2 linked regions of the Homo sapiens genome follow. The gene in region 2 interacts genetically with the main gene of each other region. Each region holds a gene or a part of one and is shown on either strand. Other genes may lie near its edges. The genes, in order: PTGS2 and NFKB1.

Region 1 (16,438 bases), on a different chromosome or scaffold from region 2:
AATACCAACAGGAGCTGGCTCTGAATTTATTACCAAAGTACAGTATGTACTACAGTTAATTTCATGCAGCTATAGTCTAATGCTACATCTTTACATTTGTTTATATTACTCTTCATTGCAAATGGCACCATGTATGGTCTGTCAGTGTTTATGTGTTAGGTTTTGAGAAATCTTAATTTTTTATAGCAGATTTGTATATATTTTATGGTAGTAAATAATAAAATAGACTAGTATCTGTATATTTCATGAATTGTGACATACCTAACCTTTTCTCTTTTTTTCAATATTTCTTGGCTACATAGTTTGTGAGATTTTTCAAATTGTCAAACATGTCTTAAAAATTTTTCCAATATATTTATTGCAAAAATTGCATATAAGTGGATCCATGCAGTTCAAACTGTGTTTTTCAAGGGCCATCTGTACATGTTTAAAAACTAGGAGACCTTAAAATTGACATATATTCAGCCCAACTGCTTATGTGTAGCTGTTGGGACTTATTAAACAATAAATGTATAGGTTGGGCAAGGTCTATGGGAAATTGATCAGGACTCCTTCTCAATAATACCATCAAAAACTAGGGTTCTTTTTAGCATTTTTTTCTTATATCATGGATATAAGACTTGTTCTTCAGGTGCAAAATGGCTGCAACAGCTCCAGTCATCACACCGAGATGACTCCCGCAGTGTCTGCAACAACAATTGCATTTTAAAAAGAGCTTTTTTAGTCTTACTCCTTTACATTTGAAAAAAAAATTAAGGGCTTCAAAAATGCTGATGACTTTGATTTTAAAATTATATTTTTAGGAAATAGCTACATGATAAAATGAAGGTCATCTAATTTTTGAAGTTGATTTCAAAGAAGATAGATTCAGCCATTTATTCAATAAGTATTGAGTACTAGTATATGCTAGTCATTTTTCTAGGTGCTTGGAATATAACAGTAAACAAAGCAGACAAAAATTTGACCTTCATGGAATTTACATATTTGGAAGGGGAAGACAGGTAGTAAACAAAATATGAAAGTAAAATATGTAGCACATTAGATGTTGATGAATACTAATAATAAATCTTGGTGAATTGTGAACCTGTTCATTCCTATGGAAAATATTAAAGGAAAATCATTTTTTGTTAAGAGGATAAGTTGAGTTTTTAGTACGGTAATATGAAAAGATCCAGGGGACAATTTCTCAAATGGTTTTGAGCTTCAGGTAAGAGTAAGGGATAGAGGTAAAGCTTTGGAAGCAAGAAACCCTGAAGTGCTTGTCGAAGCTATTGGGAAAGATGTGAACCTCTAAAACAAGAGAGTAGTGATTCAAGAGAGGAAGAAAGAGGCTTCACATAAATGCCATCTTTGGAAATGACGGGGGTGAGAGAAGGAATACATTTTTCAGATGTTTGCAAAGCAATCCTTGTCCTTAGGGTAGAGTGAGGTTTTAGTTAAGAAAGGAAGTAAACTTTCCATGAGTATCTCAATGAGCATCTGACACTATTCAATCTACACAGCATTTAACCTTGAAGCTTTTTCCCAATGATTATCAAGAATCAGCAAACAAATATGCATCGCCTTCCGCAAAACAGTCCTGTGGCTCGTGTGGTGGATGTTGTTTTCTCACACCACTAATAATGAAATGTAATATCTATAAAAGGTAGAATTAATATGCAAAATGAGTTCATTTTAAGCCCAGTTCAGAGTCACAGCAAAATTGAGCAGAAAGTACGAAGAGTTCCCATAGAACCCCTGTACCTTTCTTTACAAGAAAAGCTCATGTGCTATCAGCATTCCTCACCAGAGTGATACAATTACTATAATCAATGAATCTACATTGACACATCAGTATCACCCAAAGTCCCTAGTTTACCCCAGGGATCATTCTTGGTGTTGTGCATGCTATGGTTTTAAAAATGTATAAAGACACGTATCCACCATGTTTTTTTTTTTGTTTGTTTGTTTGTTTTTTTTTTGAGACGGAGTCTCGCTCTGTCGCCCAGGTTGCAGTGCAGTGGTGCCATCTAGGCTCACTGCAAGCTCCGCCTTCCGGGTTCATGCCATTCTCCTGCCGCAGCCTCCTGAGTAGCTGGGACTACCAGAGCCCACCACCATGTCCGGCTAATTTTTTTGTATTTCTTTTTAGTAGAGATGGAGTTTCACCGTGTTAGCCAGGATGGTCTCGATATCCTGACCTCGTGATCCGCTCGCCTCGGCCTCCCAAAATGCTGGGACTACAGGCACGAGCCACAGCGCCCAGCCTTCTATCCACCATTATAGTATCTTATAGAATAGTTTCACTGCCCTAAAAATCCTTTGCGTTCTGCCTTTTCATCCTCACCCCCAATCCCAACTTCTGGCAACCACTACTCCTTTTACTGTCTCCATAGCTTTACCTTTTCCAGAATATCATATTGCTGGAATCCTACGGTAGGTATCCTTTTCAGATAGGTTTCTTTCACTTAGTAATATATATTTAAGATTCCTCCATGTCTTAAATATATGATGGTACCACATTTTCTTTTACTGCTGACTAATGCTCTACTGACTGAATATATCACAATTAATCCGTTCTCCTTCTGAAGTACATCTTGATTGTTTCCAAGTTTTTGAAATTAAGAATAAAGTTGCCAAAAACATTTGCATGCAGCTTTTGTATGGACATACTTTTCAGCTCATTTTGGTAAATATCAAGGTGTGTGACTGCTGGATCGGGTATTAAGAGTATGTTCATTTTTGTAAGAATCTGCCAAGCCATCCTCCAAAATGGTTATACTATTTTGCATTTCCATTAGCAATGAATGAAAGTTTTGCTTGTTTCATTTCCTCACCAGTATTTTGTGTTGACAATGTTCTGGATTTTGGCCATTCCAATAGGTGTGTATTATCTCATTTTTGTTTTAATTTGCATTTCCCTGAAGACATGTGTTGTGGTAAATCTTTTCATATGCTTATTTGCCATGTATTACATGTGTATTCTTTGGCACTGTGTCTATTCAGGCCTTTGACTTATTTTTTAACTGGATTGTTTGTTTTCCTATTTTTGAGTTTTAAGACATCTTTGTATATTTTGGATAACTGTCCTTTATCTGAAATGTTTTTCGCAAATATTTTCTCCCTGTCTGGGACTTGTCTTCCCATTCGTTTTTGACAGTGAGTTTGTGAAGCAGATGTTTTTAATTTTACTGAAGTCCAAATTGTCAATTACTTTTTTCATGAATCATGCCCTTGTGTATCTAAAAAAAAATCATTGCCATACCCAAATCCGTCTAGATTTCCTTCTATGTTATCATCTAAGACTTTTATAATTTTACATTTTACATTTAGGTCTATAACCTATTTTGAGTTAACTTTTTTATTAAAAGTGTAAAGTCTGTATCAAGAGACTTTTTTATTTTTTATTTTTTTGTTTTGCTTGTTGATGTTCAGTTTTTCTAGCACCATTTGTTGAAAATGCTATCTTTGTTCCATTGTATTGCCATGTATCCCTTGTCAAAAATTAATTGACTATATTTATGTGGGCCTATTTCTGGACCCTATCTATTCTATTGATCTATTTGTCGATTCTTTTGCAAATACTATGCTGTCTTGACTACTGTAGCTTTATAGTAAGTCTTGAAGTAAGATAGTGTCAGTCCTGCAACTTTGTTCTTCTCCTTCAGTAATGAGTTGGCTTTTTTGGGTCTTTTGCCTTCCCACATAAACTTCCTTTTTTTGAGACAGGGTTCTCACTCTATTGCCCAGGCTGAAGACCAGTGGTGTTGATCACAGCTCATGGCAGCATCAACATCCTGGGCTCAGGGAATCTTCCCCTCCCAGTATCCTGAGTAGCTGGGACTACAGGCATGCACCACCAGGCCCAGCTAATTTTTTTGTAAACCCAGAGTTTCACTATGTTGCCCAGGCTGGTCTTGAACTCTTAGGCTCAAGCAATCCTCCTGCCTCAGCCTCCCAAAGTGCTAGGATAATAGGCAGGAGCCACTGTGCCCAGCCTCCATATAAACTTTAGAATAAGTTTGTCAACATCCACAACACAATATGCTGGAATTTTTATTGAAATTATGTTGTATCTATAGATTAATTTAAGAAGAACTGAAATCTTGACAATCATGAGTCTTTCTAGCTATGAACATGTAATATCTCTCCATTTATTTAGTTCTTCTGATATTTTCATCAGTTTGGTCATTTTTCTTATACAGATCTCATATATATTTAGTTAGATTTATACCTAAATATTTAATGTTGGAGGGTGTTAATGTAAATGGTAATGTGTTTTTAATTTCAAATTCCACTTGTTGATTTCTGGTATACAGGAAAGTGGTTGACTTATGTATGTTAACCTTGCATGCTGCAATGTTGCTATAATCACTTCTTAGCTCCAGGAGTTTTTTGGTCAGTCTTTATAAATTTTCTACATAGATGGTCATATCATTTGCAAACAAAAACAGTTTTATTTCTTCCTTCACAATCTGTATACCATTTATCTATTTACTTATTTATCTATTTATTTATTTTTGTCTTATTGCATTGACTAGGGCTTCCAGTATGATGATGAAAAAGGGTGATGAGTCAGGTACAGTGGATCACTCCTGTCTGTAATCCCAGCACAATGGGAGGCCGAGGTGGGCGGATCACTTGAGGTCAAGAGTTCAAGACCAGCGTGGCCAACATGGTGAAATCCTGCCTCTACTAAAAATACAAAAACTAGCCAGGCATGGTGGCACACTCCTGTAATCCCAGCTACTCAGTAAAATTGCTTGGACCTGGGAGGAAGAGGTTGCAGTGAGCCAAGATCACACCACTGCATTCCAGCCTGGGTGACAGAGTGAGACTCCATCTCAAAAAAAAATAAAGAAAGAAAGAAAAAAGAAAATGAATGGTGAGAAAGAACAAAATTGTCTCACTTCTGGTATTAGTAAGAAAGCTTCTGGTCCCCCATCATTAATTACAGTGTTAGCTATTAGTTTTTTGTAGATGTTAATCGTCAACTTGAGGAATCTTCCCTCTATTTCTACTTTGTTGTTTGTTTTTATTATGATGGGTATTGGACTTTGTCAAATGCTTTTTTCTGCACTATTAATTGTGTGATTTTTCTTCTTTACTCTGTTCATGTGATAGATTTTCAATTAAATGTTTAATGTTAAGCTAGCCTTACATACTGGGACAAATCTGACTTGGTCATGTTGCATAATTATTTGTATATATTGTTGGACTGGATTACCAGCATTTTGTTGAGTCGTTTTGCATATATGTTCATGAGAGATATTGGTATGTTATTTTATGTTCTTGTAATGCCTTTACAGTCTATGAGGTAATGCTGACCTTATAGAATGAGTTAGAAAATATTCTTTTCTGCTTCTATCCTCTGAAAATGATTACAAAGAATTGGTATAATGTTTTCTTAAATGTCTAGTAGTACTCACCAGTGAACTTATATGAGCTTGATTCTTTCTGTTTTGGAAGGTTATTAATTATCGATTCAATTTTTTAAATAGGGATAGGCCAATTCAGATTGTCAATTTCTTATTGTGTGAATTTTGGCAGATTGTACCTTCTAGAAATTCATCTAGGTTATCAAATCTGTGGTCAAAAGTTGTTCATAGTATTCCTTTATTATCCTTTCAATGTCCATGGGATCTGTAGTGATGTCTCCTCTACTATTTCTAGTTTAAAAAAAACTTTTAGATACAAGGTCTCCTCTGGTACCCAGGCTGGAGTGCACTGGTGTGATCATAGCTCACTAACCTCGAACTCCTGGGCTTAGGCAATCCTCTTGCCTTGGCCTCCCAAAGTGCCAGGATTACAGGCATGAGCCACCACAGTGGAGCTCTCAATTCTGATACTAATAATTTGTGTCTTCTCTTTTTTTCCTTAGCCTGACTAGAGTAATTAACTTTATGTCTTTTAAAAGAACCACCTTTTTGGTTTTACCCATTTTCTTTTTTGATTTTCTGTTTTTGATTTGATTGATATCTACTCTAATTTTTTATTATTTCTTTTCCTCTGCTTACTTTGAATTTAATTACTTTTCTTTTTTGTAGTCTCCTAAAATAGAAGCTTATATTATTGATTTTAGATCTTTCTTCTTTTCTATTACAGCACTCAATGCTATAAATTTCCCTCTAAGCATTGCTTTCACTGCATCCTACAATATTTCAACTCTATTGTTATTTAGCTCAAAAGAGGTTCTTAATTTCTATTGGGATTTCTCTTTGACCCATGTGTTATTCAGAAGTGTTCCGTGTGATCTCCAAATATTTGGGAGTTTTTCAGCTATCTTTCTATTATTCATTTCTTGTTTAATTCTATTGTGGCCTGAGAGCATATATTGTATGATTTATATTCTTGTAAATGTGTTAAGGTGTGTCTTATGGTGCAGAATGCGGTTTATCTTGCTATATGTTCCTTAGAGAATAATGTATGTTCTGCTGTTATTGGATAAAGTAGTCTATAGATGTCAGTTACATCTCGTTGATTAATGGTGCTGTTGAGTTCAGCTATGTCCTAAATGATTTTCTGTCTGCTGTATCTGTCTATTTCTGACACAAGGCTGTTGAAGTCTCCAACCATAATAATGAATTAATCTATTTTTCTTTGCAGTTTTATCAATTTTGTCTTATATATATTGATGCTCCATTGTTTGGCACATACACATTAAGAATTGTTATGTCTTCTTGGAGAATTTACCTTTCCATAACATGTAACATTTCCCTTTATTCCTGATAATTTTTCTTGCTCAGAAGTTTGCCCTGTTGGAAATTAACAGAACTACTCTGGCTTTATTTGATTAGTGTTAGCATGCTCTCTCTTTCTCTATTCTTACACTTTTAATGTATACTTGACTTTGTATTTAAAGTGGGGTTCTTATAGAAAACATATACTTGGTAGGGTGGGAAGTAAAATAAAAAGAAATACTTGGGTATTGGTTTGATCCACTCTAACAATCTCTATGTTTTAATTGATGTATTTAGACCATTGATACTTATTTTTTTATCCTCATCCCTGTGATTACCCAGAGAGCTGCTTAAATTGATTATTGATATAGACAAATTAATAATTAATATCTACCGTTTGTTACTGTTTTCTATTTTTCATTGCCCTTACTTTCTGCTCCTATTTTTTGCTCCTTTTTCTGTTAATTTAGGTTTTGAGTATTTTATATCATTCTATTTTCTCTCCCTTCTCAGCATATGAATTATCTTTCTTTTTGACTTTTTTAGTGGCTGCCCTGAAGGTTGCAATGTACATTTACAACCAGTCCAATTCTCCTTTCAAAAAACACAATACTGTTTCATGGCTAGTGCAAGTACCTAATAATAAGAAGTCACTCCTAATTTCTTTCTCTCATTCTTTGTATCTTTACTGTTATTCATTTCACTTGTACATAAGCTGTAATCTTTCAATACATTATTGCTATTATTATTTCAAAACATGTTATCTATTATATCTATTTAAAATAAGAAAAATAGGCCAGGTGCAGTGGCTTACTCATGTAATCCCAGCACTTTGGGAGACCGATGGATTGCTAGAGCTCAGGAATTCGAGACCAGCCTGGGCAACATAGTGAAACCCTGTCTCTACTAAAAATACAAAAAAAAAAATTGCTGGGCATGGTGGCATGGGCCTGTGGTCACAGCTACTCGGGAGGCTGAGGTGAGAGGATTGCTTGAGCCTGGGAGGCAGAGGTTGCAGTGAACCAAAATCAAGCTACTGCACTCCAGCCTAAGTGACAGAGTGAGACCCTGTCTCAAAAAAAAAATGAAAAAGAATTATTTTTATTTATCTTCACTTATTTCTTCTCTAATGCTCTTTGTTTCTTTAGTATGTAGATCCAAGTTTCTAACCTGTATCATTTTTCTTATCTCAATAACTTCTTTTAACATTTCTCACAAAGCAGATCTACTGGCCACAGAATGCCTCAATTTTCATTTGTCTGAGAAAACCTTATTTCTCCTTCACTTTTGAAAGATAATTTTGTAGGGTACAGAATTCTAGGTTGTAGGTTTTTTCCCCTCAAAGTGAAATATTTCATTCCACTCTTTTCTTCTTTGTATGGTATCTGAGAAGAAGTCAGATGTAATTCTTATCATTATTACTTAAAAGATTGCTTCTGTTCCTTTCTCTCTTCTCCTTCCCTTCTTTCCTTCTCTGTATATTACACCTTTTATAGTTGCCCCATATTTCTTAGATATTATGTTTTGGTTTTCTTCTGTGTTTTTTTCTTTGATTCTCAGTTTTAGAAGTCTCTATTTATATATCTGCAATCGCAGGGATTCTTTCCTCTGCCATGTCCAGTCTACTAATAAGCCCTTACAGACATTGTTGACTTCTGTTCCAGTGTTTTTGATCTCTAGCATTTCTCTGATTATTTCTTGGAATTGCCATCTGTCTACTTACATTACCAACCTATTCTTGTGTGTTGTCTTATCATAGTAATTGCAGTTGTTTTAATTTCATAGGTATTGTAATTTCAACATCTCTACCATATTTGACATTGATTCTGATGCTTGCTCTGTCTTATCAAGCTATGTTTTTGTCTTTTAGTGTGACTTCTAATTTTTTGTTGAAAGCCAGGCATGATGTACTGAGTGAAAGAAACTCAATACATTGTAATGTGACGATAAGAGTTCAGGGGAAGTGAAGCATTCTATAGTCCTATAGCAGGTCTCGGCCTTTTAGTGAGCCTGTGCCTATGAACGGTGACTTTCAACAAGTGCTTTTCATTCCACTCTTTTCCTGTCCTTAAGTGGGACAAGATCACTGGGGGGGGGCTAGAATTGGGTATTTCCCTTCTCCAATGTAGAAGCTAAAGAGAGGGCTGGAGTTGGGTATTTTTCTTCCCCTGTATGGAAAGCTAGAGGCAGTTAAATTTGGATATTTTCCTTCTTCTAATTCAGTTAGGCTGCGACAAAAATCCCGACAGTTTAGGCTCTAATATTATAAAATAATTTCTCTTGAGTATAGGCCTTATTAAGAACACTATACTCTGATGGAGCTGAGGGGGAGTTTTCTCTGATATTCACTGCGAGAACCTCGTAGAGCTCCAGGAAGCAAAACTCACAAAAGTGTGGGAGTCTTCCAGAATTTTTCCTTTGCAGACTTATCTGCACTGAACCTCCAGAAATTCATCAATTACAGTTCAGGTTTTCCTACCCAGGTACTGGTTTTCATGGAGGTTTCTGCCTGTGCATTTCTGCTCCAGTAAGTTGTTCTTCTTGTATGGTCTGTCTTTCAAATTTTTTAAGTAGGGTTATGACCTGTCGCCTCACTTCTCTGACAGTTCTGAGAGTGTTGATTTTTCAGTTTGCTTAGATTTTTACTTGTTTTTAGGATGAAGTGACAATTTCCAAGCTCCTCCCTGACATGCCAGATCAGAAACTGAAAGTCCTAAGCCTCATATTCTGTGCGTGGGTATGTTCACATCCTGCCTGCTCCAGTGCCCCCACCTCACACTCTCTTTCCCTTCCTTGTCCCCTTGTGAGATTTCTAGGTCCAATACAAAGACTGTGTTCAACTCATTCAACTACTTTGGCTCATCTGAGTATTATAATGAACAATCACAAAAAAAAATGAAGTAAAAGAAAAATCCATCAAAGAATTGAGATATTTGAGAAAAAGAAAGGAGATCAGTGTTTTATAAAACTTAGAAATAGATTTTTTAAGTGTTTCTTCATTGACTTATGTGAAAGGACTTTTCTTAATTTAACAAATTATGTGCTTTCGTTTATAGCCTCAAAACTTCTTGTGTAGCTAAGAATGGGTAAATAATCAGGCTTTACTAAAGGACTAACGTAAAGATCTTCTGTAAGTAACATTTCTGCTACTCAAGGAAGAGATAAACTTCATGGCATAACCTTGCCAAAGTATACTAAGAATAACCCTGACACAAAGCTCTTTTTTCAGCCAACATGCCATGAAAGAAAGAAGACAAGGGGTGATCTCCACTCTCTAAGTGAACCACTAAACCCACCAAAGAAGAAACGAGGGAAATAGAAAGAGGACCCTTGCCTGAGATAATGGATCTGTATGTATGAGTAGTAGAACCCTGCTCAAAGTACAAGGAAGGGAAAAAAAAGTTAGTTTATTTGGAATTTTGGACATTAAGAGTCTTTATTGTTCATTTTCTTTTAACTCACATGAATGGCTTATCACTTCAATTAATAAATATTTCATTTCTTTTCAACATATTCATGAAACAAATCTGAAATGAACAGTGCAACATGTGAATGTTTAGAACATTATAAAATTAAACACAAAATCTGTCTGGCAATCTTCCTAGCATCTTAGGAAAAAAGTTGACAAAATTTCAAGCAGCAGAAGGGGGCAGTAAAACTCAACAGAAAGCTCTGGAAGATTTTTAAGATTCTTCCTTATTTTCTTTTCATGTAGATTATTTCCCAACAAATTTCAGACGCTAATAGAAATTTTGTACAACAGATCCATATATTTGCCTAAAATAGACACAGAAACATTGAATATATGCAAACATGAGAGCTATAAGTTTTACATGATCAAACCTTTTTTTTATGGTACACAATAGTCACAGTACTTTTCCATATAAAACAGGTTTAGTGGTCTTAATTTAGTTTGGCACATTTAATACACTCCCATGACCAGCATCCCAAATGTACCTATCCGTTTTATTTTATTGTCTCAGAATTGTCAGTTATTTAATAAATTATGTAACTTTTTTCCTTATGCTCAGATTTGCACTTCTTTCTAAAACTCTGCCCATCCTTAAAGTCCCAGATTCTCCTTGAACTTTTTTTTTTGACTTTCCAAGTACATGGAACTCTTCACTCTATCCTGCTATATAAGTGACAGAATTTCCACTATGGGATAGATGGAGTTCAATTCCTTTGAGTTTAAAATAATCTAAATATAATTATTCCTTATGCCCTGTTTTTCCCTCACTTTTGTATCCAAATCTCTTTTCAGACAACAGAACAATTAATGTCTGATAAGGAAGACAATGATGATGATCACTTCAAAATGAATTCAGGATTGTAATGTAAAATTTTAGTACTCTCTCACAGTATGGATTCTAACATGGCTTCTAACCCAAACTAACATTAGTAGCTCTAACTATAAACTTCAAATTTCAGTAGATGCAACCTACTCCTTTAAAATGAAACAGAAGATTGAAATTATTAAATTATCAAAAAGAAAATGATCCACGCTCTTAGTTGAAATTTCATGTAAGATTCCATGCAATAAATAGGAGTGCCATAAATGGAATGATGAAATATGACTAGAGGAGGAGAAAGGCTTCCTAGATGAGATGGAATTTTAGTCATCCGTGTCTCATGAAGAATCAGATGTGTACACTAAGCAAAACAGTTAAAAAAAAAACCTCCAAGTGAGTCTCTTATTTATTTTTTTCTTATAAGACTTCTACAAATTGAGGTACCTGGTGTAGTTTTATTTCAGGTTTTATGCTGTCATTTTCCTGTAATGCTAAGGACTTAGGACATAACTGAATTTTCTATTTTCCACTTCTTTTCTGGTGTGTGTGTATATATATATGTATATATACACACACACATATACATATATATATTTTTTAGTATCTCACCCTCACATGCTCCTCCCTGAGCACTACCCATGATAGATGTTAAACAAAAGCAAAGATGAAATTCCAACTGTCAAAATCTCCCTTCCATCTAATTAATTCCTCATCCAACTATGTTCCAAAACGAGAATAGAAAATTAGCCCCAATAAGCCCAGGCAACTGAAAAGTAAATGCTATGTTGTACTTTGATCCATGGTCACAACTCATAATCTTGGAAAAGTGGACAGAAAAGACAAAAGAGTGAACTTTAAAACTCGAATTTATTTTACCAGTATCTCCTATGAAGGGCTAGTAACCAAAATAATCCACGCATCAGGGAGAGAAATGCCTTAAGGCATACGTTTTGGACATTTAGCGTCCCTGCAAATTCTGGCCATCGCCGCTTCCTTTGTCCATCAGAAGGCAGGAAACTTTATATTGGTGACCCGTGGAGCTCACATTAACTATTTACAGGGTAACTGCTTAGGACCAGTATTATGAGGAGAATTTACCTTTCCCGCCTCTCTTTCCAAGAAACAAGGAGGGGGTGAAGGTACGGAGAACAGTATTTCTTCTGTTGAAAGCAACTTAGCTACAAAGATAAATTACAGCTATGTACACTGAAGGTAGCTATTTCATTCCACAAAATAAGAGTTTTTTAAAAAGCTATGTATGTATGTGCTGCATATAGAGCAGATATACAGCCTATTAAGCGTCGTCACTAAAACATAAAACATGTCAGCCTTTCTTAACCTTACTCGCCCCAGTCTGTCCCGACGTGACTTCCTCGACCCTCTAAAGACGTACAGACCAGACACGGCGGCGGCGGCGGGAGAGGGGATTCCCTGCGCCCCCGGACCTCAGGGCCGCTCAGATTCCTGGAGAGGAAGCCAAGTGTCCTTCTGCCCTCCCCCGGTATCCCATCCAAGGCGATCAGTCCAGAACTGGCTCTCGGAAGCGCTCGGGCAAAGACTGCGAAGAAGAAAAGACATCTGGCGGAAACCTGTGCGCCTGGGGCGGTGGAACTCGGGGAGGAGAGGGAGGGATCAGACAGGAGAGTGGGGACTACCCCCTCTGCTCCCAAATTGGGGCAGCTTCCTGGGTTTCCGATTTTCTCATTTCCGTGGGTAAAAAACCCTGCCCCCACCGGGCTTACGCAATTTTTTTAAGGGGAGAGGAGGGAAAAATTTGTGGGGGGTACGAAAAGGCGGAAAGAAACAGTCATTTCGTCACATGGGCTTGGTTTTCAGTCTTATAAAAAGGAAGGTTCTCTCGGTTAGCGACCAATTGTCATACGACTTGCAGTGAGCGTCAGGAGCACGTCCAGGAACTCCTCAGCAGCGCCTCCTTCAGCTCCACAGCCAGACGCCCTCAGACAGCAAAGCCTACCCCCGCGCCGCGCCCTGCCCGCCGCTGCGATGCTCGCCCGCGCCCTGCTGCTGTGCGCGGTCCTGGCGCTCAGCCATACAGGTGAGTACCTGGCGCCGCGCACCGGGGACTCCGGTTCCACGCACCCGGGCAGAGTTTCCGCTCTGACCTCCTGGGTCTATCCCAGTACTCCGACTTCTCTCCGAATAGAGAAGCTACGTGACTTGGGAAAGAGCTTGGACCGCTAGAGTTCGAAAGAACTCCGTGGATATTCCAGCTTTCCCACAAGCACTGATCATTATGAGCCAGTTACTTAACCGATCTGAGACACTCTCACCTCCTAAATAGGGATAGATGATACTAATTTGCAGGTTGTCATTATGATAAGACAGGATCTGATCAATATATGTGAATTGTTTATATTTGGAACCTTTTTATTGAGTGGAAGAAGTTGTTTTAAATATTCTAGTCAGTTCTTTCCTGCTCCCAGGAAAGCCCGGATTATGTTTTAAGATAAGCAAAATGTCTTAAAAGTAAGCTGTTTTACTTTGAATTTTTCCCTAAATGTTGATTAGTGTACTAGATCCATTTTAATTTGGAAAGTGAAGTGCTACTTATTTGAACTTCTTAAAAATGCTAATTTTAACATCTAAAGAGTTAACTAAGAAAAGCTTAGTAACATGATGTACCAAGTTGAATATGCTGTTATCCTTATTTAGAATAGAAAATTGGTATTTCTACGTTTTATCCATTCTAAGGCAGGTTAAAAAATTGTATTTCCATGACTACCTATATATTTCTTGAATTTATTATTGTAAAGTTGATTCATAGTCAAACAATTAAATGTTTAAATTAAGATTAAGACACTAGAGAATGATTTATTTGCTGTCCTTTAATTGCAGCAAATCCTTGCTGTTCCCACCCATGTCAAAACCGAGGTGTATGTATGAGTGTGGGATTTGACCAGTATAAGTGCGATTGTACCCGGACAGGATTCTATGGAGAAAACTGCTCAACACGTAAGTTTGTCCTTTGGTTGCCTCATTAGGAGTGGGGCTGGATACAGTTATCATTGTATAGATTTGTGTCTTATAATGAGTCCCATTAATTTCTCCCTCCCTTTCTTCGTCTTCTTGCAGCGGAATTTTTGACAAGAATAAAATTATTTCTGAAACCCACTCCAAACACAGTGCACTACATACTTACCCACTTCAAGGGATTTTGGAACGTTGTGAATAACATTCCCTTCCTTCGAAATGCAATTATGAGTTATGTGTTGACATGTAAGTACAAGTGTCTTTCTAAGGTTTTTAGCCTTCTCAAAGAAAAATATGCTTTATAATACTGTAAGCCTAATCTAAAAACATATTTCCAAGCTTATCAAAAAGACTTTAAGATAGCTTTTAAGTTTGCCTTCCATCTTAATCGCCAAAAATATTGACATTTAGTCCCATCCAGTTTATACAGTCTGCTCACAACTCTGTATACCTCTTCTAACCTTTACTGTTTGGTCAGTTTGTGGAGGTAGCATGGTCCAGCTGTTTATTGAATGCCCATGGGCCACAGAATTGTTCTGAACATGTAGCACCCATTAAAATAAATTTGGATTTGGATCAGCAAGAAAATAACTTTCCATGATTCTAAAGTGGGTGCCATACTCAGCCATTCCTTTCATAGGCCTCTTGGATAGTGAGCAGATGGCTACCTGAAAAATCAATATTGCCAGATTATAATGTGCAGAGTATATGTATTTTATTAAAGATGTATTTCAAGTGGCCATTAGACTATAAAGTGTAGTTGTTTAAAAATAGATTTTTTTTATTTTGGAGTTACATTCAACCTCAGGTGCCACTTTCCACATTTTACAATAAAAATAATGGTTGATTTACTTAACAAATGAGAATAAATAAAACATTTTTTTCTTTGAAAATTTCAGCCAGATCACATTTGATTGACAGTCCACCAACTTACAATGCTGACTATGGCTACAAAAGCTGGGAAGCCTTCTCTAACCTCTCCTATTATACTAGAGCCCTTCCTCCTGTGCCTGATGATTGCCCGACTCCCTTGGGTGTCAAAGGTGAGTAAGAAGAATCCATTAGAGATGTATTAACTATAAGACGGGCTGCATTGCTGCCAAAAAAAAAAATTGACCTTAGACTACCATTTATTTATTAACAAAAGCAGTTTTTACTTTTAGCATGGTTATCTATGGGTATTTTTTAAAGTATGAGTCTATATAAACTATTATGTAAAAGCAAATGAGCGTCTTGGTATAATGTCTTAATATTTTCAAATTATTTCTTTAGAAATGAAATAATTCTAATTAAAATAGATAAAATCATTCAGTAAGAAGTTGTTCCACCATATCTTAGAACTGTTGTTTATATTATGATCCTATTCACAATTGTAATTCTCATATAAATGAAGAATTCTTGGTAGATTGACAGTCACCATCTCCTTTCTTGAATACATAGATGGATTCTTACCTTAGCTTTCTCATTTTTCAGGTAAAAAGCAGCTTCCTGATTCAAATGAGATTGTGGAAAAATTGCTTCTAAGAAGAAAGTTCATCCCTGATCCCCAGGGCTCAAACATGATGTTTGCATTCTTTGCCCAGCACTTCACGCATCAGTTTTTCAAGACAGATCATAAGCGAGGGCCAGCTTTCACCAACGGGCTGGGCCATGGGGTAAGATAGAGTTAATATCTTAGAGTTAGTAAAATTATACCAAATCATAGTCAAGGGCTAACATTAAAGGAGATATACAGATAGATAGATCCAAATAACTTATCCACTTTTTTTAAAAAGAAGTCTTATCTATAAAAACCTTAAAGGAATTTTCCATTTACTTCACTGGTCTAGTAAAATTATACACACACACAGACATGCACACACATATATAAACATTCACACACATACATATGTACAGGTATTGTTATTTGTAATTTGACCCTTGTATTTTTTAGTTTAAAATGTTAGTACTGCAAAATGTTATGTCCTCAAAAACACATTGTACCATGATTATGCCGCTTTCAATATTGTAAAGTGAGGTTTTTGCCGCATTATTATTTTTTGGATTTCAATAGCATAGCTTCAAGTTATTCGTAAGAATTTTTTATAAATAATACATTTTTATACTTTTTTATAATTACCATATCATCATAGTGAAGTATATAATATATATGATATAAGCTCAATATAGTATATTAATTCCGTTAAACACAAAGACATATCAGTTTGTAGCTTTGGTGGATAAACAAATTAATTTAGCAATTCATGGCTATGAAAAATGTATATTTTATTTAAAAATTTTAAAGAAAGCTAAATGATCAAATTATTTAATGATGAATTATATGATAGACACTTTATATAAGAAAAACTTCAACAGCAACAAATTAAAATTTTTTCATCATTTTCTAGGTGGACTTAAATCATATTTACGGTGAAACTCTGGCTAGACAGCGTAAACTGCGCCTTTTCAAGGATGGAAAAATGAAATATCAGGTATGCTTCCTTTGACTATTAAGAC
Region 2 (7,246 bases):
CCTGCCTCAGCCTCCCGAGTAGCTGGGACTACAGGCGCCTGCCACCATGCCTGGCTAATTTTTTTTTTTTTTTTGTATTTCTAGTAGAGACGGGGTTTCACCATGTTAGCCAGGATGATCTCGATCTCCTGATCTCATGATCCGCCTGCCTCGGCCTCCCAAAGTGCTGGGATTATAGGTGTGAGCCACCGCACCCAGCCTAAAGCACATTTTAAAGAATGGAAATAAAAATAAGAAAATAGATATTTTAATTTCCTTTAAAGAAAATGAAGTTTTAATTAATTTTCTTTAAAATAATAAAAGCATTTTCCTTTAAAGTGAGGAAATAGAAATGATTCACATCACTGCTATAAAAACTGAGAGAGCAGGAACAAATATCTTTACTAAGTAAATAATTACACAGGATTTTGGCCATAGTTTTGGAGTGAGAGATACACGTGAACCAGCAAACCATCTCTCCAAGGAGGATGAGGAAGATGCTTCGGGTCGATGAAGGGAAGGAGACAAATGGAAAGGTAAGAAGTGGGCAAGGGCAGGAGCCCCATACAGCAGACTGGTGGGAGTAGGGGAAAGACAGTGAGGTGGGAAAAGCAATCAGGGGCAGGAAGGAGGAAACCTCAGGAGCCGAACCCCATCTTGGTTTCATGCCAGTGCAGTCGCTCAGCCAGAAAGGCTGGCTGGGGTCACTGGGCTCCCATCACCAACGTCCAAGCTCTGCTTCTGCCGAAGTGGCTCCCAGGCTCCTTGCCTCTCCCTGAATTCTGCATATGCCCATCAAAGGGCCTCGCTGTGTCTCCAGCTAACTCTCCCTTTGCAGTGTTGGAAGACCTCTGGAAAAAACAGTTCCTCAACTTGTATTTTCAGCCCACCTAATTAATTCCTAAGAAAACCTGATTTGGGCAAAACTCTGGTGTTCCCACTTTTCCTCACTTGGAGCTGTCTTTCTGCTTTTGAAAGACACCTTTTCCTCCTCAAGCAAACTTTTAACCTTTCTGTGTGGTGATTTCAGAATGCTTCATTTGATATACATTTAATCTGGATGTTGTCAAGGTATGTTTCAGTAGACTTCAAAATTATTATAAATTACTGGCTTTTCAAACTTTTTTTAACTTTATTTTTCTTGACAGATGTGACATTTTTACTTTAGTTTCTCCCTCTTAAATGAAAAAACTGTTTGATTTCTAAAGTTTAAAGTTTGCCTTCCCCCAGCGGGATGCTGAATTTCATTGTGGCTTGATGGCTGTTATACCCACAGATCAAAGGATCCTACATCATAAAGTAACATTCTCAACTAATGGGATTTTAGATATTACCTACAAAGGTTTGTTTTTGTTTTTGCTACTGTTAACATTACTAAAAATAACATGCACCCAAACATAACAGAAGAAAAAGTAAACTACAGATTTTTCTTCAGTTGTTTTCTTGAGATTTCTGCTTACCTGGTACAGATCATTTCTCATGTTGATAATGTCATCAGAAATCAAACCAGATGTGACTTCTAGTAGATCCCTCACAAGTTGAGAATGAAGGTGGATGATTGCTAAGTGTAAGACACTGGAATGAAAACACAGTGGCAATAATTAACTAAAATGTTAATGAAAAAGAAAAGATTCCCAAGATGTGATTAGACTCAAGAATGGAATCTGCTCTCATACCTAGTTTTATTTGGCCCTAAAATGTTTTGAATCTATAAAATGCATTGAATCTGAGGTGGGATGCTGTCTCCAGAGGACTGGTCCCTCCCAACTGCCTACCCAAGGCTGCTACGTTATTTGTGGTACCTTCCTGGCCTCTGGGAGCATTCAGGTCTTGACCCCTTGATGTATAAACACACTGAGGCTTCCAGCCCAGAAAGACCTAAGCTTAAATCCCAATCCTGCCTCTATACCATGGCTTTGGGCGGTTTTCTTCTCTACCTTTCCCCCTGACTTTTCCTGACACACAGATTCTATGTAAAATGAATGCCTGGCACTAGGAATTGTTCAGAAAAACTTAGTTACCTCACTTAGCCCTGCTGCCCTCCTCCAAAATACAGTGTGGTGGTTTTTTAAAGATCTTTCCAGATCCCAAGAGTGGAGAATGGAGTGAAGCTTTTAACTACTGGAAGAAAATTCTTGCAGTAAACTTGTGAAGAAACAAAGTGATTGTATTTCCCACCACTCCTGCAAACATTCCAGCAAATATTCCCTCTGCCTGGAATGTTTTTGCTCCTTTCTTCTGCCTGAACAATGCCTACTCCATCCTTTATATTCCAGTTCAAACCTGACATCCTCAGAGAATACTTTCCTAACCTCCTAGGTGGAGCAAGTTGTCCCTCTCAAATTTACTGCTTGGTTATGCAACTGCAGTTTTCTACACATTTTTCTCGTTCTCTGTCCTGTCATCTCTGGGGCAGGTTCTGTCTGAGTCAGCCTTACAACCCTAGCATGCAGTAGAGGCACAAAAATAAGAATGATAGAAGGAACTTAAGAGCTTACGCTAATGAGGCTGAACATACTGGTGGTGTCAAAGTCACTCACAGGAGCGTAATTCTTTTAATTATTAAAAAACATACTATTAAAATTCAAAACAATAACAATAACAATCATTTTACCAGTGGCTACTATTTGTTGGGAGCTTTGATTTACCAGACTATGCTAAGCATTTGATATATATTGTCTTTTTACTATAACAATAATCCTATGAGTTAGGTAATATTATCTTCACTTTTCAGCTAATGAAACTGAGACTTGCAGGCGTCATATAACTCAGTCAAGGCCAATACGTGGTGAAGCTGGGATTCAAGCCCAGGCCTGTCTTACTCCAAAGCCATCTCTTAATCCCTTAAGCAATCCTGCATAGGGGATACATGTGCACTGTTCTAAAGACATTCAGATGAATGTCTAAGAAGATGACCACTCCAGAGCATGGACAGATTGAGGTGCAGAGCACACTAAAGCATCTCGCAGCAGCACTACATCTGGGACACGAGGTACAGGCTGGATCTTCTCTAAAATAAGCTATCAGGTGCCACTTTACTCAAGCCTCTTCCTTAGCAATAGCAAGTATATCGTACTTGGGATTAACTCCGGCACAGAAGAGCCTAAAAAACTAAATTGTGATTTTGCTACTTGAGAAATATTTTAAAACGGATGATCTCAGGGTTTCACTATTGCTTCTTGAAATGTGATACTGGAAGAAGACTTCTGAAAAGGGCCTAAACTCTGACATAGACATGATGCACATACACCAAGAAAAAGGTCATACTTCTAAAACTGCTCGAAAATTTCCATGTGCCGCTCAGCATTTCATAGCAGAAGTACATTCCCCCTCCCCCTCAAATCCTCACACCCTTATGGGAATTTCCCCAATAGCAGAAGTTTTATATATTTTTCTTTATTATATTTTCTATGATGACTAATGGCCACAGGATTTAAACTATTAGCCAAATATGACGAGCTGAATTAAAACAAGAGACTTGGGCTGTGATGGCCAAAAGCTGCCCTATACCTATGCTCTTATGAGGATCCTCTGGTCTCTCCAAGTCCCAAATCTGTGGCCTCTCTGAGAGCCGGCTTGTGTGAGTGTGCTTGGGTCTTAGGAGGGAACTTGCATGTGCCTCGCCTTGTATCCCTTCCAACAATCCTCCCTTCAGATATCAGCACTTCCTTTCTAACCTGTATGTGCTCATCTTCTTAGACTTATCAATTTAACAGGTCCCTGGAAATGCCACTTGAAACACTGCTGTACTGTCTTGGTTAACTGCTTTTTCTTGTGGTTGTATGCTACTGAATGCTAACTGGATTATTTAACCCTGAAAAAGAATTCTGCTGTTCATGGCTTTATACCAAGAAGGTTGTACTGGTTCCTCTCATACTGTATAACAAGGCCAGTGGTTATACCACATCCTTGGTTACGTTGCAAGGAATGAGAACAAAGGTGTCTCTGCTTGAAACCCTGAGGTTGTTACTTTCCTAAAGTGCTTGGTTTAATTTTTAAACTGAAGTCTAAAACACAGCACTCAAGAGCTCTTCCACAGAAAAGGATTTCTCTATGTTGATGCTATTTTAGGAAGGTTTTAGATAAGGCACTTGACTTGAATGTGAAGGCTGCTGTCTCTTGTTATTTTTATAGGCTTTTGAGATCATTTTAGAAGTCTCAATGAAAGGACTAAGAGAACTGTTTTAGAAAGAAGCCAGGTGGCTTTGCAAATACAATCTCAGTAATAGCAAGAATGGAAGGCATGGTGTTTGGAATGTTCCACTCCCACATATGGGCTGGAGCAGTCACAAAAGTCTGAAACAGTCATAGACTGATGACCATCAGAAGAGGGAGCAGAGAAGAAACCAGTAACTGGGAAATAATGACCAGTCCCTCTTAATCTTTCTGTTGTTGTTGCTGCCTTTATTGGGCTTTTTCTTGAGTACACTGTCATAAATATGCAGCTGGGATAACAATGCTTCAGGGATTTGGTAGGACTCTTAACAATTCTCCAAATATTACTTCAATAAACAAAGCAAGGCTTTTCAAAAAGTACCATTACCTACACACATCTTAGTTTTCTTGCCCAGAGAGATTCACTCTTAGATGAGTCCTCCAGCTACTACAGATTCCAACAGATGACAGCAGCAGGATGGAGCAGCAAATTGTGCTACTTAACCTTATTCACACATTATTTTTCTTCATCATTCCAGTTAGAGGACTCAATATATTTGAACAATTATTTTTATCTCTAGTCAGTATGCATTATACGATGCTCTTCTTCTTCCCCACCCAGGACAACCTATCATGCAAAAGTTCTGACTTACCTGTCCCCATTCTCATCCTGCACAGCAGTGAGATGGCGCTGGACGGCCAGCAGCATCTTCACGTCTCCTGTCACCGCGTAGTCGAAAAGGGCATTGGCATGCCTCTTTGCAAGCTGCATAGCCTTCTCTAGAAAGAGGTTATCTGTAAGGCAATGACCACAATCATAGTTGAGTGTTCCTACTTTTGTTTTATGGGTATGGCATGCTTAAGGACAAACTGACCAGCATCAGTGTTCTGACACCTTGACATATCATTTTAGTTGAAAATGTTCTTTCAATGCTTTTGGATTGTGTGGACTAGAAAAAGCAGAATTGGACACTGGGTCACTGACAAATATAGTTAGAGATTGATCTTAAAGAATCTGTGTATGATTTGTTAGAGGAAAAAAGTTTAGAAATGTATTATTTTAAGGGAACGACCATTATCTGTTATTTTAAGGAAAACAATCTCCAAACAATGTTAGATTTTACCATGATTTTAAATCACCAATATCTTGGTGAAATAATCCTTCATTGGAATCTCTAACAATTAGCTTGTTAGGCAATGTGTGAAAAAACACACATCTCTGCCATAAACAGAGACGTTCAATGAGCCACTCACGTTTTTGTAAAGTTTGTTCCATTAAGGTCAGGGAATGGCATTTGTGACCTTTGGGCCAAAACCTGTTTATGGCCTGCTTTTCATATAGCTCCCTAGCTAATCATGGCTTATACATTTTTAAAGGGGTGTAAAAAAAAAGCATATGTGATAGACACCACATGTGGCCACCAACTCTAAATATTTACTACCTTTGCTTTTATAGACGTCTTCTTAGTACGATCTAGGATGACCTAGAATCATGACACATATGCTAATAAGTATTGGTTCACAGTAAACGCAAAAGTACATTTTCTCCTAATCCTACTTCTTCAAAGAGGGCACAAGATAAAAAGAAAAGTTCCTATTTTAAGGCAAAGTTCTATTTCAGTATGACGGTTAAGCCAGAATCTAGACAGGGTGACTATTAAGCTTGTGGAAATACTTCTCTATTTATCTGTGCCAGAAAAGAAGTTGATTATCTCTCACAATACCCTAAAACTGCATGATTATGACTGGAGAATGTACATATAAATTTCTGTCCTTTACATTCAAAGATAACAGAGCAAAAATGGAAATCCCAGTGTGAATAAAATGATCTGACATATGCTTTTCCAAAGGCATACAGAACTTTGAAGAGTACACTAAACTAGATATTGATATATCATCTTTAGATTAGCAGATATCTTTCTGCACCTAGGACTGACCCCTCCCCAGCCAACCAACAGAACGTAATTTGTGTGCTCACTTACCCTGAACTCCAGCACTCTCTTCTTTTGTTCCTGTTGCATACGTTAGAGTGACCTCACCATTCCCAACGGTGGCCTCGCTGGGCTCCTGATCTTGCTCTGTGGTTTCAATAACTTTCCCAAAGAGGTTTACAGTGTTTTTGTCATCACTTTTGTCACAACCTTCAGGGTCCTTTTTAGATTCAGTGTCCATGGTTCCTAAGATAAATGCAAAAACATCAGATTTTTCTCAGTAAAATGTATTTAGTGATAATTCGCTATTCCAATGTAGGTCAGATAAAGGTAAGAGACAAGTTTGCTGCAAAAGGAAAAGAAAAATAATAATTTAAAATTCTTTTAAAAATGGTCATATCATAAATACCATGTTTTGGAGATATTCTAAACTCATTTCTAAAAATCATTTTTAGTATACTTCTAAAATCTTAAATCTCATTTTGCTTATTTGTAAAGGAGAAAAATGAAATAAAGCTCTTCTATGAATTGCAGGAAAGCTGAATTTTTAAAGTTCTTGAAAACAGAGCAGTTTTTTCCTAATGCTAATGAACAAAGCAAATCATAAAGACGTGTTGTCGACTCACATTCTTTAGTGTGGGAGTTATCCAGTGTACCATTCCTGATCACCCTCTTTCAGGTTCAACTATGTTATCTGACAGATACTATGAGAGCATCTAGCTTTTCTGCAGGAGACCTGCTTCAAATTCTTGTTCTGCCACTAACTTCTGTGTGCCTTCAGTGAGTACGAACATTTCTGAACTTTGATGCCTTTTGTGTGCAAAATGGAGTTACTATTTTCCATATAGAGCAGTCATGAAGATAACAGTTAAAACATGTAAAAGCACTTGGCACAAAAATAGGTATTCAATAAATGGGAAGACTTCTTTATAGTATTATTTCTTCCATGGGTACACTAGAATGGACCTGTAATATAAACTATCAACATGTGGTTTAACTGCAGCTTCTCAGGGGATGACTTGATGGGAAAAGACCGATCCTATAAAACTCAAAATGATTTCAGAAGTGTACTATTTGAGAAAAAAAGAGACAGAATACATTAAGTTTGATGATGTTTAAAATATTTGAATAGTCAGGTCTCTGTTGTCTCTTTTCAATGCTCTTTTCTTTCCTCTGTTCAT

The links.
Region 1: changes in NFKB1 (region 2) and PTGS2 together harm fitness less than expected from each alone (positive genetic interaction), as found in Homo sapiens cells (one study listed by BioGRID).

Annotation. Positions count from the first base shown.
Region 1 is NC_000001.11:186,676,808-186,693,245, reverse strand, and holds the start of PTGS2 (prostaglandin G/H synthase 2 precursor), read left to right. Parts: upstream 1-12,822; 5' UTR 12,823-12,955; coding exon 12,956-13,007; intron 13,008-13,807; coding exon 13,808-13,924; intron 13,925-14,044; coding exon 14,045-14,188; intron 14,189-14,841; coding exon 14,842-14,985; intron 14,986-15,415; coding exon 15,416-15,597; intron 15,598-16,329; coding exon 16,330-16,413; intron 16,414-16,438. UniProt on the Homo sapiens protein: Dual cyclooxygenase and peroxidase in the biosynthesis pathway of prostanoids, a class of C20 oxylipins mainly derived from arachidonate ((5Z,8Z,11Z,14Z)-eicosatetraenoate, AA, C20:4(n-6)), with a particular role in the inflammatory response.
Region 2 is NC_000004.12:102,595,203-102,602,448, reverse strand, and holds part of NFKB1 (nuclear factor NF-kappa-B p105 subunit), read right to left. Parts: intron 6,312-7,246; coding exon 6,117-6,311; intron 4,930-6,116; coding exon 4,788-4,929; exon of another isoform or gene 2,714-4,787; intron 1,555-2,713; coding exon 1,440-1,554; intron 805-1,439; exon of another isoform or gene 418-804; intron 1-417.